Regions from separate parts of the Homo sapiens genome. Here region 1 is reported to be linked to region 2. Evidence: microRNA targets listed by miRTarBase, many of them from high-throughput screens and not tested one by one. Region 2 holds a microRNA gene; the other region holds the end of a gene's coding sequence.
The links. Region 2 holds the annotated microRNA hsa-miR-4271 (GGGGGAAGAAAAGGUGGGG, at 2,214-2,232, opposite strand). A microRNA usually pairs through its seed, bases 2 to 8, with sites in the 3' UTR of a target mRNA and lowers its output. Matches are read on the target gene's strand: a 7mer-m8 pairs with bases 2 to 8, a 7mer-A1 pairs with bases 2 to 7 and ends in A, and an 8mer does both.

Region 1 (4,058 bases), not on the chromosome of region 2:
AAGATTAACCAGGCATGGTGGCTCACACCTGGAGTCCCAGCTACTTGGGAGGCTGAGGTGGGAGGGTCCCTTGAACCCAGAAGTTCAAGACTGCAGTGAGTCATGATCACACCACTGCACTCCAGCCAAGAGAATAAGACCCTGTCTCAAAAATTAAAAGGGGGACGGGGGTGGCAAGGAACTTTTTTGTACCTGTTAGCATAAAAGGTGATCTGCATCATAAAGTCGTCTCATTGTCATTATTTGCGGAAGGTACATGCTTTTTTCTAACAGCAACATATACATTCTTCCAGAAAAATTCATTTGATTTTTCTAACTTATTTTTTGTTTCCATCAATGTTTTCTTTTCAGACTTGGCTTCAACCAACTCAGGACATAGCGATTGCTCAGTTTCTATGGGAAACCTTTCTCCTCTGGCCTCCCCAGCCAACCTCTTACAGCAGACTGAGGACCAAATTCCTTCCAACCTAGAAGGACCGTTTGTGAACTTACTGCCTCCCCTGCTGCAAGAGGACTATCTCCTGAGCCTCGGGGAGGAGGAAGGCATCAGCGATCTCTTCGATGCTTACGATTTGGAAAAGCTCCCACTGGTGGAAGACTTCATGTGTAGTTGATTATGCTTCGTGTGAACTCTCCTTAAAAACCGATATTTTTTTATCATGGAACCAGAACATCTGTCATGCAGTGTTGTCCCTTCCTACCTTCTTCCTCCAAGAGAGTATCATGAAGTAAACTACAAACTTCAGAAGAAAGCTGACATTTTAATGAATTTTTTAAAAAATTAATAAACAAATTGTCTAAACGCACAGTTGCAGGCTCCCTTGGGAAAGCCCTGCTTTGCTCCAGGCTCCAAGATCTCCTGGCTAAGTCAGCAAGTGAGAAAATGTGCAATCAGGTGTCTCTCACCCCGAATTGTCCTTCCTCCTTCCTCCCCGGATTGGCTTGCTGTGCCTGACGGATGGGCTGTAGAATGGGGTCTGGCCACCTGGCCTGCTGGGAAACAGCAATCTTCCTTAATAGCATTTCAAGCCGTGCCTTCTCCGCAGAATGCATGTCTTTGAGGTCTGCTAATATGGAATGGAACTGCAGCAAATGCAAACTTGAAGTCATGCAAAAGTATGAAATGGATTTCTTCAGCTCTTCTTAGGAATATTTAAATTACTGTCATAATTCAGTTTAAGCTATGAACTGTGTGTCCCAGTAGGAGGTCAAGAAAACCTCCACAGCCTTCTGGATGAAGAACCTGTTTTCAAATATACTTGTTGCAGATACAGAAGACTAGTAGAGTTCTGCCACTCTAAGCTGTTGTGGATTTTCCTGTCTCCATGAACCACTCCCATTCCCCCGTCCCCAATGTGTTTGTGAGTTTCCAGTTGATTTGTAGCAAATGCCTACTTAGTTCTTTGTGGATTGTTCTAGACTTTTAATTTTTTTAGCTGCCATTTAAGCATTCCTGTGGCACCCATCACCATTTCAATTTAATTGTTTACTTTGAAGCGGTTTTTGCAAATTCATATTACTTAAGCAGAGGGAGAGAACCTCTACTGATCAGAGCATCTAAACCTGTGTGATCTAAGGTTTATCAGCCTCTGCAAGGAGCTTTGTCCCATCGTGCTTCCATTCCCAGGAGGGGGAGCTTGGAGCGAGTCAGTCCTGGGGCTTGCTGACATGGGTGGCCCATTGGAAAGGAGAACCAGGTCAGATGATGTAACAGCCCCAAGGAGCAGCAGGCATGGGTCCCTCCATCCTTGGGCTTCCCGGGCCCCTGTGACAGGGGAAAGGGCTCTCTTACACCGCACTCAGGGAGACCACTTCTCAGGATGGGGTCAGATGGAGAGACCTCTAGGGAGAAAGACATCCCCATTGTGTGAGTGGCATTTCCTTAAGCTGGCAGGAACAGGGAGCAGCCCTGTGTCGGGGGCTGGAATAGTTCTGGCCAGACCCCGTTCCCCTTCCTCTATGAAGGAATAAGTTGGACCAAGGGAAGTCGGGGACGTAAAAAATGAAGCAAAACAATGCCAGGGTGTCTCCCGCTTTACTCTTCAGGAATGGTGTCCCAAGTTGGAGGCTTTGTGTCAGCTGCAAATCCTACCAGTTATGTCCAAGAATGGCTTTCCCTCGGGCAGGTGGCAGCGGCCATCTCCCACTGGGAATATGGCGTAGTATCTCCGGTCCATTCCTTGGATGCTAAGGACTGCGGGAATGAGGGAGTCAGATAAAGAACAAACCTCGAAACGAACAGTTAAATTGAAATGCTATGTGCCTGACCCAATGGTAGGCACATAGTAGGCACTCAACTCATATGTTTAATTGAATTGAAAATATCCCTTAGGAAAAAAAAAAAACACACAAAAAACCACAAGAGCCCCAGCCAGTTTACTCCAGGTAGATTTCCACAATATGCAAAGTGGTGGTGGGGTCAAGACAGATGACACCAGCACTTTAAACTCTTTGTGTGGGTATGCGTGGGTGTATGTTTGGGAAGAAAAACAAAGGTGCAGACTATCTTCCTTTTTTTCTTCTTCAGCCTCCATCCCTGGCCTCCTCCCCTCACACACACTGGACTTGGTACAAAATGTCGGTGTGGTCCTAGATGAAGCATTGGGGTGGGGGAGGGAGAGGGAGCTTTGTGTTAAGTGCCTACTGGAAATGCACTGTGGGGTTTTTTCCTGTATGGGAAACCATTTATGCCAAGCTTTTCCCCATTTCCCATATTTATCTCATCTGGTTAGCTGCCTCTGCTTCCAGCTTTGTGTAATTCTCTTTGCCAGCTGCACAAAGCTGATTTTTTCCAAAGTCTAAAGACTGAGCTCACCTGGCTAGATTGTTGTGTGTTTTGTTGAATTTTTTCATAATGTAATGCCGTATTTATTGTTTTTAAAATGAAAGGAATACTAATAAGTCTTAAAAGTTCCTTCATGCATAAGATTTTTTTCCAGTTACTGGGTTTAACTGGTGTACATTAATTAGATGTCCATACTGTATTTTGTTTGCATTAAGTAATTTTCTTTTTGACTTAGTATCCGGCACACAAAGTGGGTTAGTACTACAGTATTTGCGTTACTTTAAGTACTAAGTATGCAGGTTTCCTGGTACCATTGAGTTGCTGCTATTAAAGCTCACACACGAAATGGCTAAAAGTTACAAGTGTGCAAATTATGACTGCGTGAGCCTTAGAAAATAAAATGTATAAAGGGCAACACATGAGCTGTCAAACAGTGTTAGGAGTGTGTTTATATGTACAGAGTTGTGCATAGCAATCGTTTTATTTAAGTTGATATGTAGTCTACTCACATTTTCATTATTTAGCAATTTTGTACAAAAATAGCAATTAATTTGTAAACACTGCCAGAATACTTTCTAGCTGCTTTGTAATTTTTTAAGAGTGTTATTTTGTTTTTGTTTTTCTGTTCTTTGTTGTGGCTCTTGTTTTCATTTTTGTTGTACGTGTAGATCTGTAAATAAAATTGCAGTATTTAAAGCTTAAGCTTTCAGGAAAAAGAAAATAAGAATTCAGTGTGTGCATGACAACTCGTGTGTATGAGAAGGAGGGATATGAAGGAAGATGGCTTGCAGAGTAAGTCGGGTGGCAATTGTCAGGGTGTGGGAATTTCTTTTCCTACGGGGTACGTGATTTTGTAAAAAGGAAGTATTTCTCCCAAAATTGGGAGTAGGCAAACTACTAATCAGTTTAGCTTTGTGTTGTATGCTAGTTTAAAAAAGAAAATATGTAATATAATGTAAAAAAAAACAAAAAAAAGCTTTTATGATGGATTTTGTAAATAGATTTGTTACAGGGTGACCTGTTCTCTAGCTGTGATCTTACCACTTCAAATGGGTGTAATTTGAATAAATTTTGTATGGTAAAGGATCAATAAAATGATTTTTTTTAAGAGTTCAGGCTTGTGGATGGGTTTTCTTTAATATTATCTTGTGCTCCTCTATTAATTGAATTTTTTTCATTTTCTTTTTCTTTTTTTTTTTTTTGTTTTGTTTTTTGAGGCAGAGTCAATCACTCTCACCCAGGCTGGAGTGCAGTGGCACAATCTTGGTTCACT
Region 2 (4,069 bases):
GGGGATTCTTGTTTCTGAAAAAGTTGTTGAAGATCCTAGATTTAGTTCATGACAGTGCTCTTGCCTCCTCTTGGCAGCTCTGTGACTGCATTTGGGGAGTTGACAGACATTCTTCAGAATCTGGCCTAGGAAACAGTTATATTTTGTGTATATGTTCCAGTTGAGGGGCTAGTTGTCAATCGTTGATGTCAAAAACCAGTCATGGAAACCACTTTGCAGTACCCAAAGGGGTAGTGGATGTAAAATAACCGGGTTTTAAAAATAACCTTATTTTTTAAGTTGCAGAAACAAAAGTCTTAATTCCATCTTAACTCCTGTGTTTGAATCTGGACACTGGGGCCTTTGATACCCTCCTTTGCCCACATTAGGGAGAGGCTTAATTGAAGGCTGGGCCCTACTTCCTGGCTTCATCTTTGCCTCTGCTCCCCGCTCTTACCCCAGATCTTTTTGGACCATCACCAGGTCTCTTCTAGACTTTTTCTTCTCCCGAGTAACTTGAAATTGCCTGGTCCCAGGCACCTTGACTTGGAGAAGGGATGAATGTATGAGATGAAACTTCAGGCCGGGCGCGGTGGCTCACACTTGTAATCCCAGCACTTTGGGAGGCCGAGGCGGGCAGATCACGAGGTCAGGAGATCGAGACCATCCTGGCTAACACGGTGAAACTCTGTCTCTACTAAAAATACAAAAAATTAGCCGGGCGTGGTGGCGGGCGCCTGTAGTCCCAGCTACTCGGGAGGCTGAGGCAGGAGAATGGCATGAACCCGGGAGGCGGAGCTTGCAGTGAGCCGAGATCACGCCACTGCACTCCAGCCTGGGCGACAGAGCGAGACTCCGTATCAAAAAAAAAAAAAAAAAAAAAAAAAAAAACTTCAAAGTTCTGCCATCTTGGCTGCTTCATAGGAAGGGGATAAAGAGGCCATTTAATTGGTTCAACTCCACAAGAATTTTTTTCCTTTCAACTCCACAAATATTTATATTGGTACTCATAAGCAGTGCAGGCCTTGCCGGGTGTGGTGGCACGCCTGTAATCTCAGCACTTTGGGAGGCTGAGGTGGGTGGATCGCTTGAGGTCTGGTGAAACCCCGTCTCCACTAAAAATACAAACATAAGCCGAGCGTGGTGGCGCGCGCCTATGATCCCAGCTACTTGGGAGGCCGAGGCAGGAGAATTGCTTGAATCCTGGAGGCAGAGGTTGCAGTGAGCTGAGATCTTGCCATGGCACTCCAGCCTGGGCAACAGAGCAAGACTCCATCTTAAAAAAAAAAAAATGCTGGGCACAGTGGCTCACGCCTGAATCCCAGCACTTTGAGAGGCTGAGGCGGATGAATCACCTGAGGTCAGGAGTTTGAGACCAGCCTGGCCAACATGGTGAAACCCCGTCTCTACTAAAAATAGAAAAATTAGCTGGGTGCCGTTGCGGCCGCCTGTAATCCCAGCTGCTCCAGAGGCTGAGACAGGAGAATCGCTTGAACCCAGGAGAAGGAGGTTGCGATGAGCCGAAATTGCGCCCTTGCACACCAGCCTGGGCGACAAGAGCAAGACTCTGTCTTTAAAACAAACAGGCCAGGCGCGGTGGTTCACTCCTGTAATCCCAGCACTTTGGAAGACTGAGGCGGGCAGATCACCTGAGGTCAGGAGTTCGAGACCAGCCTGGCCAACATGGTGAAACCCCCATCTCTACTAAAAATACAAAAATTAGCTGGGCGTGGTGGCAGGCGCCTGTAATCCCAGCTACTCAGGAGGCTGAGGCAGGAGAATCACTTGAACCTGGGAGGCAGAGGTTGCAGTGAGCCGTGATTGCGCCATTGCACTCCAGCCTGGGGGACAAAGCGAGACTTCATCTCAAAAAAATAAATAAAAAATAAAAATAAATAAATAAGTAAACAAATGCAGGCTGGGTGAGGTGGCTCATGCCCGTATTCCCAGCACTTTGGGAGGCTGAGGCGAGTGGATCGCCTGAGCCCAGGAGTTCGAGACCAGCCTGGGCAACATGGCTAAACCCTGTCTCTAAAAAAGAAAAAAATTTAATACAGTCTGCGATGCTCGTGAGTCATTATGGTAAAGCTGTTAGTCAATTTCTCCACTGATGTAGCAGTTTCCAATTGTCCTTTAATCAAAGCATAAATGACAAGGTCACCAGTAAGTTTTTGTCTTTGAGATTATCTAAAACTGAGTTTCCCTTCAATATTTTCTTGAAAGAGAATCTAATTCCCCACCTTTTCTTCCCCCCCACCTGGGGGCTGCAGGAAAGATATGGAGAGAGATTTGAAGGCTGACTCAAACATGCCACTCAACAATTCTAGCCAAGAGGTCACAAAGGATCTGCTTGATATGATTGGTGAGTACAGTGGGCAAGTCCATCCTGTCCTTGGGAAGATAGGTCCTTCACATGGGTCTGAGTCAGCAAATATCTCAGATATAAGAAATGCTCTCGGCCAGGCACGGTGGTTCATGCCTGTAATCCCAGCACTTTGGAAGGCCGAGGAGATCGAATCATGAGGTCAGGAGTTCAAGACCAGTCTAACCAATATGGTGAAACCCCGTCTCTACTAAAAATACAAAAATTAGCCAGGCGTGGTGGTGCACGCCGGTAATCCCAGCTACTCGGGAGGCCGAGGCAGGAGAATTGCTTGAACCCGGGAGGCAGAGGTTGCAGTGAGCTGAGATCTTGCCACTGCACTCCAGCCTGGGGGACAGAGTGAGACTCCCATCTCAAAAAAAAACAAAAAACACTCTCTTCTAGCTTGGGTACCATACATAGCGAGATCTGTCTCTTAAAATTTTTTTTAATTAGCTGGGCACAGTGGTGTGTGCCCATAATCCCAGCTACTAGGGAGGCTGAGGTGGAAGGATCACTTGAGCCCAGGAGTTCAAGCTATGATCATACCACTGTACTGCAGCCTGGGCAACTGTGCGAGACCTCATCTCAAAAGAAAAAACACCACCACCACTTTTTGGGGGGAGAGACAGAGTCTCATCATATTACCCAGGCTGGAGTGCAGTGGCACGATCACAGTTCACTGCAGCCTCAACCTCCCTGGGCTCAGGTGATCCTCCCAGCTCAGCCTCCCAAGTAGCCATAGTACTACACTAGTACTACAGGTGCACGCCACCATGATTGGCTAATATTTGTATTAGGGTTTTGCTGTGTTGTCCAGGCTGGTCTCGAACTCCTAGTCTCAAGTAATCCACTTACTGTGGCCTCCCAGTGCTGGGATCAGGCAAGAGCCACCACTCCCGGCCAAAACACTCTTATCTTTTTATTTGGTAGATGTTTTGCTCAGACTCTGCATTGATTAGGGAACTGAATGTTAACAAAACCTGTCCCTTCCCTCATACAACTGATTATCTTGTGAGGTGATAGATACATCAATCAGGTCATGTCATCAATGTTTAGATGCACTGAGTCCCTGAAGGCAAGGGATGGTGGCCACTAGGACATGGTGATTGAGCTTAAATTTTTAGGAAACAGGACATAGGCAAAAAGGAGAGAGTAATTTAGCTGGGGTCAGTAATTAAAGATTAGGAGAAAAGGGCTGGGCACAGTGGCTCACACCTTTAGTCCTAGCACTTTGGGAGGCTGAGGCGGGCAGATCACTTGAGGTCAGGAGTTCGAGATCAGCCTGGGCAACATGGCAAAACCCCTTCTCTACTAAAAACACAAAAAATTAGCCAGGCGTGGTGGTGCACACCTGTAATCCCAGCCACTTGGATGGCTGAGGCATGAGAATTGTTTCAACCCAGGAGGCAGAGGGCAGAGGTTGCAGTGAGCCGAGATCGCACCACTGCCCTCCAGCCTGGGTGACAGAATGAGACTCTGTCTCAAAAAAAAAAAAAAAAAAAAAAAAAAAAGATTAGGAGAAAAATTAGAAGTCAAAAGCTTTCCTATAATTCTACCACCCAGAGATAACCACTGTTAATATAGATATAGTATAGCATACATCCTGTCAGACTTTTTTTCTACATACAAATCTGAATGTCCTGTATGTGAACTACATGTGCTCTATTTTTTATTTTGTCTTTTTATTATTAGTAGTAGTATTTTTTATAAATAGAGACAAGGTCT

Region 1: the mRNA of E2F3 is a reported target of hsa-miR-4271. Seed matches in the 3' UTR shown: 7mer-A1 at 2,699-2,705.

What each region holds. Positions count from the first base shown.
Region 1 is chr6:20,489,817-20,493,874 of GRCh38, forward strand. E2F3 (E2F transcription factor 3) reads left to right here. Exons shown (of 7, transcript NM_001949.5): 7 at 352-3,898. The coding sequence ends at 614. Among named protein-coding and RNA genes, the nearest start is that of CDKAL1, 43 kb to the right of the region's middle.
Region 2 is chr3:49,272,321-49,276,389 of GRCh38, reverse strand. MIR4271 (microRNA 4271) reads right to left here and starts at 2,270; the gene lies at 2,204-2,270. C3orf62 (chromosome 3 open reading frame 62) reads left to right here. Exons shown (of 3, transcript NM_198562.3): 2 at 2,250-2,341.